3 linked regions of the Homo sapiens genome follow. The protein of the gene in region 1 interacts with the protein of each later gene in a pairwise test. Each region holds a gene or a part of one and is shown in the gene's direction. Other genes may lie near its edges. The genes, in order: CLDND1, ZDHHC4 and CXCR1.

Region 1 (7,784 bases):
ATAGAAATGATGTTACTATTCTAGGAATATATACTTTAGATTTCTTCGAAATAGCAGATTTAATCTGAATTTAGGTTGTGCATAACAAAAATTATGTTTATTTATGTTGGTGTCCTTGGCATCCAGCAGAGTGTCTGGCAAGCAATAGATGGTCAATAAATGATTATAGATCTGGGATGAATCATGCTTGAATTTTGAGTTATTTCCGCAGAGTAGGGACTTTTCACAAACTTCTTAGACAGCTTCCATTTTCTATTCAGTCCTGGGATCTTTGTCACATCATAAACTAATATGAAGAGATGTTTCTAAGTTAATGCAGCACATTTTTTGTCAACTTATGCTTATGTTTTCACTTGGCACATCTTGTTGAATCAGAAGCAACTTGCAAACCAATAAATGTGAAAAATATCATTATCATGGCCTCATAATAAGTATGACGGATAGTGATGAGAAGAGGACTCTCTCAATGAAGACTCTTAAGTTTATTAATAATTAAATTAATTGATTATATTAGTTTCTTATCTGCAATAAGATTTTTTTTTGAAAAGTTATTTTTGGGAGGCCCACAATTCATACTCATAACTCTATACTAATAAGTGTCAATTAGAAGAAATCAGAAAAGTTTCCTTCCATAATTTTACCTTCATAATTACTGTTAATCTTTGAAATAGCAAGGGCTGTTTTTCGGTACCTTTTCTAATCAGAATGCATATAGTCTTCCTCCTTTTCCTTTGCAATCTACATTTGCCACTATCTCTGCTTCTAGTACATTGCCTAGGCTTGAGGTATAGGGTATATAAATTCTGCAATGAAACTCTAATGCTGTGGATCTATGAAAAACCGTATTTTGTAGTTGCATTATTCTTCTTCCAGTAGAATTATAAACTGTAAAATTTTAGAGCTTCAAGTGGTGTTAATGATCATTAGTACAACTGTTTTACTAAAGAGGACCCTAGGGTCCAGAAAGGGGTCATTAACCAAAGATCCATTGATAATTTTTAAATAAAGGATAATTTAAACTTAAACTTCTCATTTACATATGGGTCATTCACTGTCTTTCAGAAGCATGGGCATCTAAAAATTATAGTTTTTTACTATATGTGGCACTTTACAGGAATTACTAAAAAAAAAAAGGAGACATTTTAGGTGCACTTTTCTATTTGCCTTGATCTTGATTCTGTTATTGTTCTACAGTGAATGGGTGCAAGGAAATTCAAAGATAGGTACATTTTTAAAAATGGTTTTTGGTTGGAACCCAGAATTGTACATATTCCCATTTTTTTCCTTTCTGAACTCCAAAGTTCACAAGGGAAACAACCAGAAAAAAAATTACATGAAGAAACATAATGTAAATATATCTTATAATGTAGATATAACTTTTAGTTCCTAAAAATGTGCAATTAAAAATAAAATATTAAATGTATTGGGGAATTTAGTATTGATGGAAATTCTAGTGTGAAGGGTTGTTTCATAAGTACATAATAAAAACAAGTTACAACATCTGAGTATCTAGATTTTCAGTTATCGGTTTTATTTTAAATGTGCTATAACTATAATGCCTTCCGGTTGAAACTAGAACCATCTTTAACAAGTTAAGCTAGATGTCTCATTTAACTTCGCTTTTAAACCTAAATTCCATAATCTCTACATGGTTGCACAAAATCATCTTTCATATTTGTGAAAATATAAGGCTAGCTACCGTTTCTCAAACAGCAGAGTAAGAAGCAGAAGTAGAAATTTAGCTCCATTAATTAATTAAGGATTTATTTTACCTACTCATACAACAAGCAAGCATAAATAGAAATTAGGAAACACCAAAGATGCAGAGATAAACCAGAAATACGGTTGTGTGGTTGGTGAAACTGGGTGTGAAGAGGCCGTTCAGGTCCTCTCTCAGGATGATCAAAACCACAAACACGTAGAGACACCTCCAGGTTCACACTAGGTTGGTCAGTGAAATGCGTCCTGAGTGTTTTCTAGGCATTCTGAAGACTTGAAGGGTGCAAGTGTCATCCTCCTTTGCAGGTCTTCCCAGAAACATCCACCTCCTGAGTCATGGCGACTTGTGTATGATACGATCCCAGGCCTGGGAATCTCCTGAGAAGGGTTAAACAGGGATGCCCAAAATACTAGCCCTGGCAAATTTTTCCTAGTCATTTGGTGGTTAGTCCAGAGCTTCTCAAACCTGCTGAAGCGAGCAGGAACACCTCTCTGTATAAATGGCTTATCTCCATTTAGGGGTAGCCTCTAGGGTTAATCCAGGAGCTTTAAAAGCTGTCTGTCTTTTTCTGTCCTGTTTTTCCCGGTCGCCGCACGCTGTCCCGGTCCGCGCCTGCTCCCTGCGTGCCTTGTCGCCATGCCTCCGAAAATTGAGGAAATCAAGGACTTTCTGTTCACAGCCCAATGAAAGGATGCTGAATCTGTCAAGATCAAGAAAAATAAGGACAATGTGAAGTTTAAAGTTCGATGCAGCAGATATCTTTATACCCTGGTCATCAGTGAAAAAGAGAAGGCAGAAAAACTGAAGCCAGTCCCTGCCTCCTAGTTTGGTAGTGAAGGAGTTGAAATGAACCAGCCACACTGATTTGAACTGTATTAGAATACAAAAAAAAAAAAAAAAAAAGACTGTTCTCACTAAGCTTACTCAAATATTATATTCAACAAATATTTGCAAATACTAATAACTTAATGATTCTTTCCTAAACCTCAGGTCCTGTGCTGGGCGTTTTATATGTTTTTCTCAATCTTCACAATGATCATGTGGGATAGATGCTACTGTCAACATCCATATTTTGGAGAAAAGACAACCGAGACTTAAAGAAGGTTAATTCTCCAAAGTCACAAAATGAGTATATTCAAGTGTGTTACCATGGTAGTCAGTTACTCTAATATCCAAGTTTGCTACCAAGTCAGTTACTCTCTCTAGTTCCTTTATCTGTAGACTGAAGTTGTTTCTTCTCTCTCCTTTAAACTTCTCTTTTGCCTGGTTTACTGACCACATGATCTCAGTGGAGAGGTAAATCTGAAAGTGGGGAATTTCTTTTTTTGAGGCAGAGTCTTGTTCTGTCGCCCAGGCTGGAGTGCAGTGGCGTGATCTTGGCTCACTGCAAGCTCCGCCTCCCGGGTTCATGCCATTCTCCTGCCTCAGCCTCCCAAGTAGCTGGGACCACAAGCGCCTACCAACACGCCTGGCTAATTTTTTTGTATTTTTAGTAGAGACGGGGTTTCACCGTGTTAGCCAGGATGGTCTCGATCTCCCGACCTCGTGATCTGCCGCCTCGGCCTCCCAAAGTGCTGGGATTACAGGCGTGAGCCACCATGCCCGGCGGAAAATAGGGGATTTCTAATGAAGGCCAATGGATGAAGACATTTCCTGGAGTATAAGGGCATTTATGTGTCTTACTACACATTGACAATTTGCCTGTGCCTCTCCATCACTTTCTCTAGTTGGTGCCTCTGACAAATTTTTTTTTGATTATATGCTGTATATGAAAATCCAGAGTCATGTTTGAATATATTTGGCTACTACCTTATTATGTGCTGCATATGAATATCAGTTTCACCCACTCAGGTCAAAGAAATGTAAGTACAGATAGAGAAACATATCATGCCTTTAATCTGTCAAAGTGGTAGAAATTTAATATCAACTTGCAGCTCCCATCTTTCTCCTATGCTAAATTACAAGGCATTAGGGGACAGAGTGGGGGTTTGAGAGCCCCTCTGGTCCTTGAGTCAGCTTTCTCTGTCGGTTACTGTTGAGAAATCCACCATTTGCTGGTCCCAGGCCACGTTAATAGTTCCACTCATGTTATTGTTAAGATGTCCCTGCTTCCTGTCCATGAATTTCTGTGTTAAACCTGAGGGTTCAGAATCATTGTTGCCCCTGTGCCACACATCATCTGCAATCTCCAATGCTGTCCATGACCTTATCTGCTTGAGTGATGTTCCCCAAATTTCAGTCTTTTTCCTACTATACCCACAATTTTTTATTCATTTTTTGACATATCTGGTATCCTCAGTATTATTAACTTAATAGTTTTTAAAATAAGTGAAAAGAATTTAAAAGGAACAACATTGCTGCAATAGAAAACTAGTATCACTTGTCATAAAAAGAAGGCAGCTACAAACACATTTTATGAAACCCAAATAATATCATTACATTCTTGATGGATACTGTCTGCCAGGTCACATACTTCTTAGCCTAAACTTATGCAATAAAACCAGAAGGATGCTCTGCTCCAATGGGAGGGATTCTGGGAGAGGGAAATAAAATGGGTCAACGTTTCACAAGTAGAATCCCATTTTTGTTCATTTATACTTAGATCTAGAGGCAGGGTGGTGTGATAGGGAAAGCACAGGCCTAAAAGTCAGATCTAAGTTATACAAGTCACGGTCATTGACTCGAGATGACCGGAAACAGGCCCGCTTTACTTTCTGGACCATTCTCCCTTCCTCCCTAAAATGCAAGAATCCAACAGCCTAGACTTCCCTTCTGCGTACCGGCTTGCCCTGAGGAGCTGAACTACATCTCCCACAATGCGCCGCGCGCGGCGCCAGGAATGCCTATCGCCGCCTCAGACAGCTTTCAGTCTGTCCCTCCTACAACTCCCACAAGGCCCCTCGGCCCCGGGCCGCGGCCCGGCCCGGAGTGGGGGCGGGCGGAGGCGCGGGAGTTATGGAGGGGGCGGGCTCTGCAGGGAAGTGCGTCAGAGGAGGCGCGGGGAGAGTAGGGTGCTGTGGTCTGAGCTAGAGGGTGAAGCTGGCGGAGCAGGAGGATGGGCGGTGAGTGAGCGGGACCTGCGTCGCCGGGCAGGGGTCGCGTCGCGGTTCCATGTTCCCGGCGGTTTGAAGAGGGGCCCCCTTCCCGGGCGTGGTCGGGCTGGGCGGGTTCCGAGCGGCGGATTTGTCCCAGGGCCGAGCCCTCTAGGGCGGGGCCTGGTCGGGTACCGGGGGACCCTGGCCCGGGGCCGAGCACGGCTGCCCCGCCCCAGCCCTGGCCTTCTCCGGCCCCGCCGTGAGGCCCAGGAGGTGGCTGCTGCAGGCGTCCGGCTTGGACGAACCGCCGTTCCCAGTGCTGGGACCCTTTAAGGTCATTTGAGAGCACCAGGATGAAGGGGGGATTTTTAAAAAATCAAAATACAAATCCAACTTTTTGAGTTTTCGTTGTCATTGCTCTTATCTTTCCTGAGTCACTTCCCATTTTCCAAACTCAGCAACCCCAGTTTGCGAGTCTGTTTTCATGAACCTTTGTAAGGTGTTTGGTGCGGTCACGGTGTATACTTGCCGTGTAGTATTTGACTCAGCGCGATCTGCCTTGAGTCATTTTACCGCGGCCATTTACTACTGCCGTTGAGCCCTGTCCACGCCTTGGGAGTGTTGATATGTTGAGAGTTTTCTGTCTGGCTGAGGAGGGATCATTTAGTTTTTGCGGACGTATGTTGCACTGAGGATTTAGGGAGAGAGCAAGATTTCTGTTGAGGAGGTTCAGAAGTATAAGGAATCGGGAGAGTAGATAGGAGTGAAGCATTTGGCAGCGTAAAGAAGCTTGGCTTAGCTTTAATGGATTAGGGAGAGATTGCTATCTAGCATTATTACATGTTATTGTTCTCTTTGCTATTTTATACACCTAGAACAACCTTTCCCTCGGGGTTAACAAACATCTTCAACTCTGTTTTCTGTATGGCTCCTGACTCTTACCTTTGTTTTAGGAGGCTTCCCTCTTCAGAGGAAACTGGGAGAAGCCAATTTCCACTGCTTCTTTTTCCTGTGCCTTTTTAACACTCAAACCCAGAACACTTAATCCTCTGCAGCTCGTGCAAAAATTCAGTCTGTAATTTAAAATGTGTGCACGGTACACTGCTGACCATGGGCATGTCTATTGTTTGTATCTGTAATGTGTATGTCCATTTCAGTGTTGTCTGTTTTAGTATGCAGGTGATAGACTAGAGAACAAGACCTCTGTCTCCGTAGCATCCTGGGTATGTGAGCATTCAATAAGTACTTTTATGAGAATGAGTTTTGTTTTAAGCTTAATTAAAAACATGCTTGCTTTCTAAAAAAAATTCTTAATGGTTATATGTACGAAGGGATGGGGAATTGGGTAAAGGGTGCATTTGGAATAATTCAAAATAATCTTTCTTATTTGTCCGTAAACTCTAACTTATCTTCTTTCTTCAACTTCTAAACAGAGCAGTCTGAATGCCAGAATGGATAACCGTTTTGCTACAGCATTTGTAATTGCTTGTGTGCTTAGCCTCATTTCCACCATCTACATGGCAGCCTCCATTGGCACAGACTTCTGGTATGAATATCGAAGTCCAGTTCAAGAAAATTCCAGTGATTTGAATAAAAGCATCTGGGATGAATTCATTAGTGATGAGGCAGATGAAAAGACTTATAATGATGCACTTTTTCGATACAATGGCACAGTGGGATTGTGGAGACGGTGTATCACCATACCCAAAAACATGCATTGGTATAGCCCACCAGAAAGGACAGGTATTTCTCTTATTTTAACTTCTGTCTTCTTCACCTGGTTAATAATAGACAAAACGACGTAATGATTGCCCAATTACATGTAAGCAGGTTTGTTGGTTCTCTCTCTCCTTAAAGAAATAAATCGTGTATCTTCTCTTTCTACTGCCTTCTCTCCCCAACTTCTTTGCATTACCATGGTACTCATCAATATTGGTTGGATGAGGAACTTTTCTTATCTTGGGAAAGCCTTAATGGCTTTTTTTTTTCTTATTTACTCACTCATTAAAATACTTTTCATTACTCTAACACATGTTATAAAGAAATAGTTGGAAAAGTACATCGAAAGACTTTTAAAAATATTTGGTAACTAGTAAAAGGACTACCATCGAAAATCAACTCAAAAAATTGTCCTTTTATGGGTTAGCTGTATTATAATACATATCTATCATTTGCCCCTGTGTCTTAGAGGATATAATTTGACCAGCTCTACATTTAATCTGTGTAATTATGAGACTGTTTTACAACAATCTTGATGCAGAGTTGGTAGGTTAAGAAATTTGTATTACAGAAGTTAAAAAAAAAAAACCAAAAACTAGATTTTTAGGTTTATTTTACAGGCATTCTTATTTAACACTTAAAGATTTTGATTTCCAGTTATTAAAATGGTAGCTTTAGAACTCTTTGTAAGGAACAACTTTACAGTTTATTTATGACTACTTCTGTTGGCCCCTTAGTGGGGAAGCATTGTATTCAAATCATAGCAGAACAGGCTTGAGTTATGATATATCAAAAGGATGATAATATGTCACTGTATCTGGAAAAAAAGATAATTTGGAAGGAAAGGAGAGAAAGTTGGTTAAAATTCATTGTAAAATGTTCAGTTTGACTTATGAGGTTACAGGAGCACTTGATATTGAAATTGGAGTTGGAATTGGAGTGTTACCATTTAGTCATTCATTAAACAAATAATTTATTGCATGTCTCCATGTTCCAGGGCCTCTTAGCTGGGAGAACATCAGGAAAGAACAAAATCCTTACTCCTGGGGAGCTAGCATTCTAATAAAGGATGACAGGCAGTGAACAGAATATAACAGTATAAACAGAATAAATAATTATTCAGTATGTTAAAAGATGACATGTGCTATGGCAAAATAGAACACAAAAGGGATTTGGAAATATGTGGGAAAAGGAATATTGGTGGCCATAGGTTATGATTTTCAATAGGATACTTAAAGTAGGTCTCATTGAGAAGACACCACTTGAGTAAAGAATGTAGTTAAAGACTAGACAAAAGAGTTGGCCATATG
Region 2 (7,524 bases), on another chromosome or scaffold:
TTGTATTAATAGATTTGCCTTTGAGTCTGGGAAATGAAGGACACGCATCAAAAGTTCCTACCATGCCCCAAGCATCTCATGTTCTCACTCTTGCACCTTCATTCATCGGGGGTTGAATTTTTTTTTTTTTTTTGAGACGGAGTCTCACTCTGTTGCCCAGGCTGGAGTGCAGTGGCGTGATCTCTGCTCACTGCAACCTCTGCCTCCCGGGTTCAAGCGGTGCTCCTGCCTCAGCCTCCCGAGTAGCTGGGATTACAAGCACCCACCACCACACCCAGCTAATGTTTTGTGTTTTCAGTAGAGACGGGGTTTCTCCATGTTGGCCAGGGTGGTCTCGGACTCTGGACCTCAGGTGATCCACCCGCCTAGGTCTCCAAAAGTGCTGGGATTACAGGCATGAGCCACCGCACCCGGCCCTGGGTTGAATTTTTTTTTTTTTGAGACAGAGTCTCGCTCTGTCGCCCAGGCTGGAGTGCAGTGGCTTGATCTCAGCTCACTGCAAGCTCCGCCTCCCAGGTTCACGCCATTCTCCTGCCTCAGCCTCCCCAGTAGCTGGGACTACAGGCGCCCACCACCTCGCCCGGCTAATTTTTTTTTATGTTTTTAGTAGAGACGGGGTTTCACCGTGTTAGCCAGGATGGTCTCGATCTCCTGACCTCGTGATCTGCCCTCCTCGGCCTCCCAAAGTGCTGGGATTACAGGCATAAGCCACCATGCCCGGCCCTGGGTAGAATCTTAATTTGAAGAGACATTTTTGACACATTCCTTGCATCATTCCAGATATCACTTATTAGATGTCCACTGATTGATTGCCTACCTGGCCAGCATCCATGTACCTTCCCAGTAGGGCCCACACATCCTTCCAGAATCCAGCCCCTCACCTGAGCAACTCATGTGCTTTGGGGGAAACTGATCCTCTGTAGCTTCAGCAGGAGGCCTTGTTTTACCCAAGACAAAGGCCACATTCCATTTTCCTGGTGGCATCATGGTTCAGGGGTGAGTCTATGACCCAAGCCAGCTTAATCACACTGAATGTCAGTACTCCTACTTGGGCCTGGAGGGAGACCTCCCCACTCTCCCTTCACTGGATGTGGGTGTGGATGCATGAAGCCCCAGCTATGGCTGGTGGCCATCCCATCATCAGGAGGAAAGCTGGTCTTCAGATGAAGCTGATCTTCCAGTCAGAGTGAGGGATAAAAAGAACATTGATTCTTGATCATGCCATTGGGCTGCGGGTTCAAGTCATTCCTGAAGCCAGCATCATTTCTGGACATTCCAATGGCAGGGACCAAGATGTCTCTTTTGTTGTTTAATCTACTTTGAGGGCTGGGCGTGGTGGCTCACACCTGTAATCCCAGCACTTTGTGAGGCTGAGGCAGGTGGATCACCTGAGGTCAGGTGTTCAAGGCTAGTCTGGCCAACACGACGAAACCCTGTCTTTACTAAAAATACAAAAATTAGCTGAGTGTGGTGGCGCATGCCTGCAGTCTCAGATACTCGGGAGGCTGAGGCAGGAGAATCACTTGAACCCAGGAGGCAGAGGTTGCAGTGAGCTGAGATCCCGCCACTGCACTCCAGCCTGGGCAACAGAGCGAGACTGTCTCAAAAAAAAGAAAAAAAAAAAAAAAGGCACGGGGCAGCAATTACAGTAGCAAAGGCAAAGTGGAAATTTGGGTGTAAACTGGGCACCCATAATGTATGCTCCAAGCCAGCTAATAGTGACAACTGTGGCCCCACCTACTGGCCACAGGAATTTTTTTTGAGTGATATCAAGGATGTAGATTTCCTTCTGATATAAGTTATCATTTTCTTTCATTCATTCAGTTGATACATTTTTATTGGGCATCTACTATGAGCTAGGTGCTAAAATAGTTGCTACTGATATAACAGTAAGCCAACACAGATCCAGTCCTTTTTTTTTTCTTTTCTTTTCTTTTTTTTTTTTTTTGAGACAGGGTCTTGCTCTATTGCCCAAGCTGAAATACAGTGGCACAGTCATGGTTCACTGCAGTCTCAAATTCCTGGACTCAAGCAATCTTCCTGCCTCATCCTGCCTCAGCCTCCCCAAGTAGCTGAGACTACAGGTGTACACCACCACACCTAACTAATTGAAAACTTTTTTGTAGCGGTGAGGTCTCACTAGGTTGCTCAGCCTTGTCTTAAACTCCTGGTCTCAAGGGATCAGCCCTCCTCAGCCTCCCAAAGTGTTGGGATTACCGGTATAAGCCACTATGCATGGTTCAAAAATACTTTTATGTTCCTTTCCTTCTTCTTAATTTCTCCATGGCAAAATTCCTCATGGTCAATAAATCACTGATTGTAAACAAGCATCATGTGTGATATGCCTTTTGCAAGCGTAGCTACGAAGTCCTGTATCCCATTTCCAAAGTATAGCATCCATCATTCCCTTGGGGACAAGAGATCGTGGTGTAAAGCTGGTTGATCCTGTCAACTGATCTCACAGCAGGTAAAAAACTGATACTGCAGGTCCAGTTTCAGGAGCTGACAGGAGCGTTTAGCAACACTCCAAAGAGGAATTCTTTGCTCCATGCATCACAAGCAAGGCAATCCTTTTGATCACACTTGAATTTTTGGTTTTAAGCTTAAGTAGTCTGTTTTCTCTTATGCTATTTATAAAATGCAGGTGTCAAGGTTTGCGCTTGGATGTTTTAAAGAGGCAAAAAATCAAACATGCCTAGGTTTCAGGAACTGACCAAGTGCTGAGAGATTAATCTTTTTTTTTTTTTTTTTCTGAACCAGGGTCTTGTTTTGTGGTCCAGGCTGGAATGCAGTGGTGTGATCCTAACGCACTGCAGCCTTGACCTCCTGGGCTCAAACAATCCTCCCACCTCAGCTTCCTAAGTAGCTGGGACCACATGTGCATGCCAGCACACCCGGCTAATTTTTAAATTTTTTGTAGAGACAAGGTCTCCATATGTTGCCCAGACTGTTCCCAAACTCCTGGGCTCAAGCGATCCTCCCACCTCGGCCTCCTGAAGTGCTGGAATTATAGGTATGAGCCTTGGTTTTTCAATTCTGGGTCCATAAATTTATGAAGACCTTGGATACAATGTACACAGGAGAAGGCATCCTGTTGGTAAGGAGTTTCATAAAAAGGAAAAGAAAACGCATCAAGAAGCTGACGTAGGTAGCAAAGAGACAGGAAAAGAGAAGAGCTTTAAGGCCAGTGTTTGGAGATCAGACATTTCCCCTCAAAGGAGGACAGGCCTGGCTCAGGTCTTCAGAGGCATCAGGAATAGACCCTGGCCTCAGCTGATTCAGAGATGGTCAGAGCAAAGGACACCCCACAGGGCCTTCTCAGGGCTATGTTTGGAAGCAGCTCTTGTTACCCCAAGCCTGCCTAGCATCAAACACCCTTCCCTTTTATCCTCAACGTTTGTGGTCAAGTATTTGTCACTGCCCCGAGGATATTTAGGGCTGTACAGAGCAACATGTCCTTGTCATCAGGAGCAAGGACACACATGGAGCGGAATCTGACTGATGGGTACACATTGTGCTTTCTGCCCGCTTCTGCAACGGAAGATGCTGGAAATGTTCTGCTAGATCTCAACAGTGTGGGTGGCTGAAAGCAAACTCTGTCCACCACACAGACATAGTCTGAGAGCCCCCTAAGTGTGACTGCCCTGGGCCACCTGGATCCCCCTGCTGGGCTCTGAGCAGGGACATGACTGGTCTCTGTGCAGGCCGCAGGGCAGCTTAGTCCCTGTCACAGCCCCAGAATGATCGCCCCCACCAGGCCCAGGTCGGTCCTCCTGTAAGTCTCCTGGCAATACTGCTCTAAAATCCCACTTCCAGCCCAGTGCAGGGACTCACGCCTGTAATCTCAACACTCTGGGAGGCCGAGGTGGGAGGATCACTTGAGCCCGGGAGTTCGAGATCAGCTTGGGCAACATAGTGAGACACCCGTCTCTACAAAAAAAAAAAAAAAAAAAAAAAAATTAGGCGGGTGTGGTGGCATGCACCTGTGGTCCCAGCTACTTGGGAGGCTGAGGCAGGAGGCATTGCTTGAGCCCAGGAGTTGGAGGTTGTAGTGTGCTAGGATAGCGCCATTGCACTCCGGCTTGGGCGACAGAGCGAGGCTGTTTCTGAATGAATGAACGAATACATAAGTAAATAAGAAAATAGGTAATACATAAAATAAAATAAATAAAATAAAATAAAATAAAATAAAATAAAATAAAATAAAATAAATAAAATAAAATAAATAAAATAAAATAAATAAAATAAAATAAATAAAATAAAATAAATAAAATAAAATAAAATAAAATAAAATAAAATAAAATAAAATAAAATAAAATAAAATAAAATCGCACTTCCCAGCGGTTACACCCGGCCACGGAGGTCCCCAGGCTGGCTGCGAGGGCGCCGGGGAGGTCACTGTTACTCCAGCCCCGCAACCCGCGGCGGCCCTCGCACACTTCCGCCGGAAGTCAGCCCCTCAGGGGCGCCGTGCTGATGTCACGAGCCCGCAGGAAGTCTCGTATCGCGCCCGGGAGGCGCCGGAGCCCAGCGGCTGGCGGTAAGGCCGCCTCCGCGGGGCTGTGGGAAGCTTGGGCTGTCCCAGGACCGTCAGTCTCCTCCTCTGACCCTCCCTTTCCCCTTGTGTGTAGGGCCGCCGTCCCACCCCCACCTCGCCCGAGTCCGGGGCGGCCCCGGTGTCCCCTCCGAGCCTGCTGCACTCCACGTCCCCCTACCAGGGCTCCAGCCCCCAGGGAAATCTCCGACCAGGCCCGCCCAGGAGGTGCCTTGGATGGGGGTGGCTTCGGGAGGCCCTAATGGGGAGTGGCGGGGAGAGACCCAAGGCTACCGACTTGGCTTATTTCTTCCCAACTAGCTGTTTCTCACAAAGTCTTTATTATTATTGTATTTTGAGACGGGGTTTCGCTCTTGTTTCCCAGGCTGTAGTGCAGTGGCGCGATCTCGGCTTACTGCACCCTCCGCCTCCCGGATTCAAGCAATTCTGCCTCAGCCTCCCCAGTAGCTTGGATTACAGGCATGCGCCATCACGCCCAGCTAATTTTTTTTGTATTTAGTAGAGACGGATTTCACCATGTTGGTCAGGCTGGTCTCGAACTCCTGACCTCAGGTGTTCTACCCGCCTCGGCCTCCCAAAGTGCTGGGATTATAGGCGTGAGCCACCGCGCCCGGCCTCTTTTATTGTTTTTAGAGATGGGGTCCAGCTCTATGGCCCAGGCTGGAAGGCAGTGGCACGATCACAGCTCACTGCAGCCTCGACCTCCTGGGCTCAAGCCATCCTTCCACCTCAGCCTCCCAAGTAGCTGGGACCACAGGCGCGGGCCACCACGCCCCACTGATTTTTAAATTTTTATGTAGGGACAGTGATCTCACTGTGTTGCCCAGGCTGGTCTCGAACTCTTAACCTCAAGCTATCCTCCTGCCTGGGCCTCCCAAAGATTTGGGAGCAGGCCTAAGCAACTTAGTCTGGGCCATTTCTCCCAAAGTCTTACCCATTCATGCTGGGGGTGCTGAAAATCCCCTACTTCCAAATCCTTTTCCACAGGTATTCTGCCTTTGACTGCAACTCTTGTCGTCTTATGTGGGTGTTGAATTGATCTGTCTCTGCAGCCAGATCCAGGCTCCTGGAAGAACCATGTCCGGCAGCTACTGGTCATGCCAGGCACACACTGCTGCCCAAGAGGAGCTGCTGTTTGAATTATCTGTGAATGTTGGGAAGAGGAATGCCAGAGCTGCCGGCTGAAAATTACCCAACCAAGAGAAATGTAGGCTGGGTACCCTGAATCACCCCGTGAGAATTGCTGCTGTTTGTTTACTCTCACCTATCATGTCATGAATAGCTTCTTGTTTGGTTATCTCACTTGGCATTACAGCCCAGAATCTTATCTGCTAAGGTCAAAAGTGACCAGTTCCGGTATCTTTTTTGGTTTGTTTTTGAGACAGGGTCTCATGCTGTCGCCCAGGCTTGAACTCCTGTGCTCAAGCAATCCTCCCGCCTCAGCCTCCACAGGCATGCGCAACCACACTTGGCTAATTTTTGTATTTTTTGTAGAGATGGGGGTCTCGCTTTGTTGCCCAGGCTGGTCTTGAACTCCTGGGTTCAAGTGATCCTCCCACCTCAGCCTTCCAAAGTGCTGGGAGTACAGGCACGAGCCACTACGGCCGGCCAATTCCAGTACCTTTTTTTTCTTCTTTTTTTTTCTTAAACCGCTACACTATGGAAAAGAGTTCCAGTATCCAGTGTCTTTTCTTTTTTTTTTTTTGAAACGGAGTCTCGCTCTGTTGCCCAGGCTGGAGTGCAGTGGCGCGATCTCGGCTCACTGCAACCTCCGCTTCCTGGGTTCAAGAGATTCTCCTGCCTCCACCCCCTGAGTCGCTGGGATTACAGGCATGTGCCACCACGCCCGGTTAATTTTTGTGTTTTTAGTATAGATGGGGATTACACCATGTTGGCCAGACTGGTCTCGAACTCCTGACCTCGTGATCCGCCTGCCTCGACATGCCAAAGTGTTGGGATTACAGGCATGAGCCACCACGCTCGGCCTCAGTATCCAGTATTTTAACGCAGGCCTGTGTGTTGACTCTGGTTCCAGAGGGTAATTCCTGATGGTTGTGGCCAGTGTCCTGGAGGGATGCTTCTTAGGACAGGATGCCTGATTCTGGGTGCAGGGCTCCTGACTGCCTCTAGGAGATGCTTGTTCTCAAGGCATTGTCAGCAGATTCTTTGGGGACACATCTTGTATCTTTGTGAATATTTAAGGAAGTAAAAGAATGATTCATGCCTGGGGGCAAGGAAGGAGGATGCATGTTCTTTCTTGGTTTATTTTGGATTTGCAAGTTGGAGATGCTTCAAAGGCAGGCCACAGTCTTAGGGTGTTAGATTCAAAGTTTTTATCTTGGGCAGGTGCAGTGGCTCACGCCTGTACTCCCAGCACTTTGGGAGGCCGAGGCAGGTGGATCACCTGAGTTCAAGAGTTCGAGACCAGCCTGGCCAACATGGTGAAACCTCATCTCTACTAAAAATACAAAAATTAGCCAGGCATGGGGTGCGTGCCTATAATCCCAGCTACTCAGGAGGCTGAGGCAGGAGAATTGCTTGAACCTGGGAGGCGGAGGTTGCAGTGAGCCAAGATCACGCCACCGCACTGCAACCTGGGTAACAAGAGTGAAACTCTGTCTCAAAAAAAAAAAGTTTATCTTTCTTTTTTTATTTTTTATTTTATTAAATTGAGACAGGGCCTCACTATGTTGCCCAGGCTGGTCTCGAACTCCTGAGCTCAAGCGATCCACCCACCTCTGCTTCCCAGAGTGCTGGGATTACAGGCATGAGCCACTGCACCTGGCCCAGAATTTTTATCTTGATTGAGGGAGCTCAGGACCATTTTGGAGGCCCCACTGAGAGGCAGCAGGCCTCTGTTATGTGTGCCTAAGAATTGGTGAATTCTGTTCTGTTTGTCTTTCTGCTTTTTGCTTTGAGATGTCATTAAAGTCTAGATGAATTCTGTTTTGGTAGCCATTTGGGAGTTG
Region 3 (6,965 bases), on another chromosome or scaffold:
TAGCTGGGACTATAGGTGTGTGCTAGTACATCCAGATAATTAAAACATTTTTGTAGAGATGGGTGTCACTACGTTGCCCAGGCTCACTTTATTTATTTATTTAGAGACAGGATCTCACTTCATCACCCAGGCTGGAGTGCAGTGGTGTGATCATAGCTCATTGTAGCCTTGACCTTTCTGGCTTAAGTGATCCTCCTGCCTCACCCTCCCTAATAGCTGGGACTACAGGCACACACCACCATGCCCAGCTAATTTTTACTTTTACTTTTTATTTTTAGAGAGATAGGTCTTGCTATGTTGCCCAGGCTTGTCTTGAACTCCTGAACTCAAGCAATCCTCCCACATTGGCCTCTCAAAGTGTTGGGATTACAGGCATAAGCCACCATGCCTGGCCTATTTATTTATTTGTTAATTTTTTTAAAAAAAATTGAGATTGCAGGAAATAATTTTTAAATTTAATTTTAGTTTTAAAACGGAGATTGCAGGAAACAAATATGCTCACTTTTCAAGGTCCTTCTCTGGCTTCCTCTGGAGACTGGAGATCAGGGCTGGGAGGTCTGCACCTGGCTAGGTCACGTGTCTGTCAATGCCCCTGTATCTTTACCACTGCAGCCTTGACCCAGTGTCTCACTGACACTACTCCCTGCTCCTCTCATCCTAGACCACATTTGGTTTCCAGAACTCTCACAGTTGGGCATGTTTTGGTTGCTGGTAACAGAAAAGTCAACTTAAACTGGTCTTAACAATAAAGACAATTTATTGGCTCATGGAACCGAAGAAAGTACAGAGAGAAGATGGCCTCTGGGCATGGTTTGTTCAGGACTCTTGGTCTGTTTCTCTGATTCTCTCAACTCTGCCTTCTTCTGTGTGTTGGTTTTTTCCTTGGACTGTTTTTGCCATTTATGGTAGCAAAATGGCTGCTGACTGCAACAAGACTATATACTTGCTTTTCCACATTCATTGAGCAAACATCTGAACTTTGCTCTGACTGGATCATCTTGGGTCACAGACTCACTCCCTGAGCCTGTTGCTGTGGTTACGAGGACGTCACTGGGGAGAGAGGAGAAACCTCCCTCTACCCCTTTCCTCTACTTTGATCCCAGATCCAAGTGGATTCTTCTGGAGGAATGAGAAGAGATGCTGAAGCTGGCATAAGGCTGATGCAGGGACAAAATAGATGTTCTTACAGCCACATTGTGCTGTTCACATGGTCTGTGCAGAAGTCATCATGTTTAAAACAGAGTGGTAAGAAGATGTCACCCAAAGAGATACTACATTTTGCCAGTTGACTGGCATTCGGGCTGCACCTGTCACAGCTTTCTTTGTGGCATTAGGAGCTCTACATGGAATGGAAAAATGCTTCTCAGCAGGAACATTCTAGGCCATTTTAAGAGGGCACAGTTATAAGTGGGAAGTGAGGTATAGAAGATAGGTTGGGTGGGCTGACTTGCTGGAACATTTTGAAGTGGGTAAAATTTTATTCTAAACTCATCTATATGTGCTTTCTCCCTCCTTCAGTGAAATGCTCGTCCTACTGCGAAGTGAAAGGTTCTTTCCACCCTTGTCCTCCAGATGCAACTTCTCCTGGAGACCCCAGCATTGCTGTTGCCCTCACCACACTCATGCAGCAGGGCTGCTCCCCTTCACTCCTCGGGCTCCAGGAGACCAGCCTCTTCCCTAACCCCTCAGTGATTCCTTGAAATAGACTGGAATAGTGAACCGACTTACTGAGGGTTTAGGAAAAGCAGAAGGGAACTATACACCAAGAAGAACTTAACATACGGTGTTAAATATACCTGCTCTTGGCCCTGGTCTTTCTCAAGGGGGTGTCTCACAGGGGATTCCCTGTCTAGCAACTGCTGCCCCCTTGTGGCAAAAACTATCCTTCTCCCGGCCTCAGGGTCTTTCTTGAGTATAGGCAGGTGTTTTGCAGTCTAGGCCCCCGTCTTTTTTCTCCTGTGTCCCCAGTGACTATTTTCTGCCCTTGGGGCTGATTTTCCCTAGATGATTAATAGAGGGAGTCTCCCACCTCCTGGGACTACCCCATCTTTGACTCCTTTCTAGTCTAGGCGTTAGAGCACAATAGTCCAACATCAGTAAAAGCAAAGCATGAGTGGCTATTGTCCCCTTACACTTCCTGTTACCATCTATGAATGATAAAAGAGCCCAGGAGGAAAGCACAACTTAGCTTAAAAAATAGGCTTGCCGGCTGGGCATGGTGGCTTATGCCTGTAATCCCAGTGCTTTGGGAGGCAAAGGCAGGAGGATCACTAGAGGCTAGGAGTTCAAGATAAGCCTGGGCAGTATATCAGGACCCTTTCTCTACAAATAAATAAATAACTAAATAAAAAATAAAAATAAAAATATAATATAAAAAAAGAAAGCCAGATGTAGTGGCTCTTGCCTGTAGTCCCAGCTATTCAGGAGGTTGAGGTGGGAGGATTGCTTGAGCCCAGGCATTTGAGGTTACACTGAGCTATGATCACACCACTGCATTCTAGCCTTGGCAACACAGTGAGAGCCTGTCTCTTAAAAAAAGAAAAAAATTCTTTCCAGTGCAGAACTGTAGGAATCCATGGCATGGTAAATTTGGCATTTGTGGTAGGGCAGGATTTATACTTGCACAGACTGGCATTAGCTCCAAACATTAGAGGAAGGTTGGAAAGAAGCAATGCCAGGCAGACCAACTGGGCTGTGTGGAAGTGAAGCTATCAGGCATACCAGTGACTTTAGTGTGTAGCCAAAAGCAATAGACACTGAATCGTGGTGGTGACTTATGGTCCATGAATCACAGGAGAAATGTCTCCCTTCATTTATTCCACAACCATTGATTGAGCACCTACTATATTCCCTGAAAGAGAACATAAACATGAATTGAAGAAGGTTCTTGCTGTCTCATGGCTCCCAAGCTAGAAGAGGGCTGACTTGTAAATGCCTCACAGCAGGGTTCATGTTATATGGAGAAGTGACGAAGGTGCCAGAAGACTCAAGCTAGGGGACAGCCATTAGCTGCTGGAGGCAGCTAAGGTGGGTTCCCAGAGAAGCCATTCTCCGTTACTGAGATGGGGGCTGCAGTGACCTTGACCACAGCTCTTCCATTCATGGACTGCCCCAGCTCTGTGGTCTCTCTGCTAACCAGCCAGACTCTGGGAGTGGCCTATGCCGTCAGCCTCAGGGCCATTTAAACCAACTGGTCATTGGCAGTGATTGTGCGAAAGAGTGGCTGGCGGCAAAGGAGGGTTTGTGTTCCATTCAAATACCCTCAAAAAGCCTGAAAAATAAGTAGAGATTGAGGCCAGGCCTTGGAGTTGTGGAAGGTGGAGAACACTGGGAAGCCAACCTCCAAAGAAGACCAGGTTGGAGGCAAAGGAGGAAGGGGAGCTCTCGTTGGCAAACCAACAGGGAAGCCAAGGATATCCCAGTAACTGCTCTCACATCCTTGATGAGAATGCCTTGAATCCGAGCTAGGCCACCTCAAAGAAGCCTGCAAAATAAGTAGAGATTGAGTGCCTGCTGTTCAAACACAACTCAAGCGCAGTCCTCCTCCTCTTTCCCACTGGATTGCCCCCAAGTCCCTCCTATGGGGGACTCCTTCTGAAGTCTCTGCTGTAAGTCAAATCCTTCGCCCTTTATACTTGGTCAGGAAGTTGCAAGCTTCCACAGGTGATATACTAGGGAATTTAGGAATAAACAAATGGAAATAAATTCAAGAAAAGGAAAATAATAAAAATGATCATCCATAGAGTGGAGAATTCAGATAATGGACCCTCAACCCCAGCTTCACACCTGGGACCCCCACTTGGTCATATGGACCCTGGCAGTCTCTAATCACAAGTCTGTGATCCCTTGACTTAAACTGTTCTTCCCCAAATGTAGACATGGGTGGGGCTCAGAAGGGAGGTGTCATCTGATGTGGTTTCCTTATTTCCGTTTATTCATCAAGTGCCCTCTAGCTGTTAAGTCACTCTGATCTCTGACTGCAGCTCCTACTGTTGGACACACCTGGCCGGTGCTTCAGGTAGGAAGCCACCTCTGTTTGCTAGGACTTTCTGTGGGGTAGGGCTGCTTGGCTTGACTTTATTTTGGAAAATGTATTCATTTCTGTGGGAGCTGAGGATTTCTGCTGCCCGCTTCCTCTCTTGTGACCACCACTCATACATGGAGTTAGCAGGTGAAGAGGACAGCCTCCTCATCCCCTCTTTTTATACCTTGCCCTTTTGTGGGAAGAGGCTGACCATTCCCCAATTTGATGTTTATTGCTTCACCTTAAGACTTTGTCTTCAGTGAAAATGCAAATACTGGTAGGGAGGGAACACACTAAAATGTGTGGATCTGAGTGGACTCATCATACACCCTCAGGCCTGGCAGCAAATGAGAGGTGGATGATTCTGTCTTCCTCGATTTGCAGATGAGAAGACTGAAATCTATAGGGGTACGAGACCCCACTCAAGGTCATGAGACTTATTTATTTATTTATTTATTTATTTTGAGATGGAGTCTCACTCTGTCGCCTAGGCTGTAGTACTGTGGCACGATCTCGGCTCACTGCAACCTCCATTTCCCGGGTTCAAGTGATTCTCCTGCCTCAGCCTCCTGAGTAGTTGGGATTACAGGTGCACGCCACCACACCCAGCTAATTTTTTTGTATTTTTAGTAGAGACGGGGTTTCATCATTTTGGTCAGGCTGGTCTCGAACTCCTGACTTCATGATCTGCCTGCCTTGGCCTCCCAAAGGGCTGGGATTACACACGAAACTTATTAATGGTAGAATCAGGATGGAATGAAGACTGGATGCTAGGTGTCTTTACAACCAACCTCGGTGACTTTCCAAAGGCTTTCAGACTTCTCTGGAGAGTCCTGGAGCTTTGAGGGGCTCTTTAGGGGCCATCTGGGTTCGGAGATTAGCACACTCTGCCCCACAGTGGCTCAGCTTTTATCTGCTTCACATACTGGGCTTCTGGGAAGATCTTATTTCAGTAAACTATTTCACAATAGGAAATATATTTGAAAACTCTTGAATGATTCTGTGGATTTTTTCAGGGGTGGAGGGTTTCAGGGACCAAGATGGAGACTTTATCTTCTCAAATACTTAAAACTCCTTTAGACAGAGGAACAAAATATGTGCTCCTCATTTAAAGAAGGCTTAAAATATACAGTTTAATGCAATGTGTTGTTATCACTTCCTTCCCCCAGTAGATTTTAAGGAGGGTAAACAAGAATCAGGGAGAACATAGGAATAGAAATAGTAGAAGGGGACACCTGGGAACAGGTTTGCCTTCTTGCATTTTGCTTAATGCTGGCCCTTCCCTGAATGTCTAAGACCAACCTGGTCCCCACATCCAAATGCACAGACACAGCTGAGGATGGAGAAGGCTAAAGAGGGACAGAGGTAGAGACATAGGCTGAGAGGAGGCAGTTGTAGGTTGAGCTAGGGCTAAGGTGTTTTCCCCATATTCCATCTTACCCCACACTCAGGCCAGGCCTTAGAGTTGTGGAAGGTGGAGAACACTGGGAAGCCAACCTCCGAAGAAGACCAGGTTGGAGTCAAAGGAGGAAGGAGAGCTCTCATTGCCAAACCAACAGGGAAGCCAAGGATATCCCAGTAACTGCTCTCACATCATTGATGAGAATGCCTTGAATCCGAGCTACTAAATCACATTTCCTTCCTTCTAACCTTCCAGTTAGATCAAACCATTGCTGAAACTGAAGAGGACATGTCAAATATTACAGATCCACAGATGTGGGATTTTGATGATCTAAATTTCACTGGCATGCCACCTGCAGATGAAGATTACAGCCCCTGTATGCTAGAAACTGAGACACTCAACAAGTATGTTGTGATCATCGCCTATGCCCTAGTGTTCCTGCTGAGCCTGCTGGGAAACTCCCTGGTGATGCTGGTCATCTTATACAGCAGGGTCGGCCGCTCCGTCACTGATGTCTACCTGCTGAACCTGGCCTTGGCCGACCTACTCTTTGCCCTGACCTTGCCCATCTGGGCCGCCTCCAAGGTGAATGGCTGGATTTTTGGCACATTCCTGTGCAAGGTGGTCTCACTCCTGAAGGAAGTCAACTTCTACAGTGGCATCCTGCTGTTGGCCTGCATCAGTGTGGACCGTTACCTGGCCATTGTCCATGCCACACGCACACTGACCCAGAAGCGTCACTTGGTCAAGTTTGTTTGTCTTGGCTGCTGGGGACTGTCTATGAATCTGTCCCTGCCCTTCTTCCTTTTCCGCCAGGCTTACCATCCAAACAATTCCAGTCCAGTTTGCTATGAGGTCCTGGGAAATGACACAGCAAAATGGCGGATGGTGTTGCGGATCCTGCCTCACACCTTTGGCTTCATCGTGCCGCTGTTTGTCATGCTGTTCTGCTATGGATTCACCCTGCGTACACTGTTTAAGGCCCACATGGGGCAGAAGCACCGAGCCATGAGGGTCATCTTTGCTGTCGTCCTCATCTTCCTGCTTTGCTGGCTGCCCTACAACCTGGTCCTGCTGGCAGACACCCTCATGAGGACCCAGGTGATCCAGGAGAGCTGTGAGCGCCGCAACAACATCGGCCGGGCCCTGGATGCCACTGAGATTCTGGGATTTCTCCATAGCTGCCTCAACCCCATCATCTACGCCTTCATCGGCCAAAATTTTCGCCATGGATTCCTCAAGATCCTGGCTATGCATGGCCTGGTCAGCAAGGAGTTCTTGGCACGTCATCGTGTTACCTCCTACACTTCTTCGTCTGTCAATGTCTCTTCCAACCTCTGAAAACCATCGATGAAGGAATATCTCTTCTCAGAAGGAAAGAATAACCAACACCCTGAGGTTGTGTGTGGAAGGTGATCTGGCTCTGGACAGGCACTATCTGGGTTTTGGGGGGACGCTATAGGATGTGGGGAAGTTAGGAACTGGTGTCTTCAGGGGCCACACCAACCTTCTGAGGAGCTGTTGAGGTACCTCCAAGGA

What was found.
Region 2: the proteins of CLDND1 (region 1) and ZDHHC4 interact in binary tests that used the Homo sapiens proteins (3 or more experiments, as listed by UniProt).
Region 3: the proteins of CLDND1 (region 1) and CXCR1 interact in binary tests that used the Homo sapiens proteins (3 or more experiments, as listed by UniProt).

What each region holds. Positions count from the first base shown.
Region 1 is NC_000003.12:98,519,847-98,527,630, reverse strand, and holds the start of CLDND1 (claudin domain-containing protein 1), read left to right. Parts: upstream 1-4,728; 5' UTR 4,729-4,775; coding exon of another isoform or gene 4,776-4,782; exon of another isoform or gene 4,783-5,089; intron 5,090-5,927; exon of another isoform or gene 5,928-5,934; coding exon of another isoform or gene 5,935-5,978; intron 5,979-6,188; coding exon of another isoform or gene 6,189-6,206; coding exon 6,207-6,498; intron 6,499-7,784. UniProt on the Homo sapiens protein: Plays a role in negatively regulating the permeability of cells to small molecules.
Region 2 is NC_000007.14:6,572,959-6,580,482, forward strand, and holds the start of ZDHHC4 (palmitoyltransferase ZDHHC4), read left to right. Parts: upstream 1-4,495; 5' UTR 4,496-4,540; exon of another isoform or gene 4,541-4,762; intron 4,763-4,919; exon of another isoform or gene 4,920-5,014; intron 5,015-5,542; exon of another isoform or gene 5,543-5,607; 5' UTR 5,608-5,705; coding exon of another isoform or gene 5,706-5,762; exon of another isoform or gene 5,763-5,788; intron 5,789-7,524. UniProt on the Homo sapiens protein: Palmitoyltransferase that catalyzes the addition of palmitate onto protein substrates including the D(2) dopamine receptor DRD2, GSK3B or MAVS.
Region 3 is NC_000002.12:218,163,961-218,170,925, reverse strand, and holds the start of CXCR1 (C-X-C chemokine receptor type 1), read left to right. Parts: upstream 1-3,963; 5' UTR 3,964-4,018; intron 4,019-5,681; 5' UTR 5,682-5,714; coding exon 5,715-6,767; 3' UTR 6,768-6,965. UniProt on the Homo sapiens protein: Receptor to interleukin-8, which is a powerful neutrophils chemotactic factor. Binding of IL-8 to the receptor causes activation of neutrophils. This response is mediated via a G-protein that activates a phosphatidylinositol-calcium second messenger system.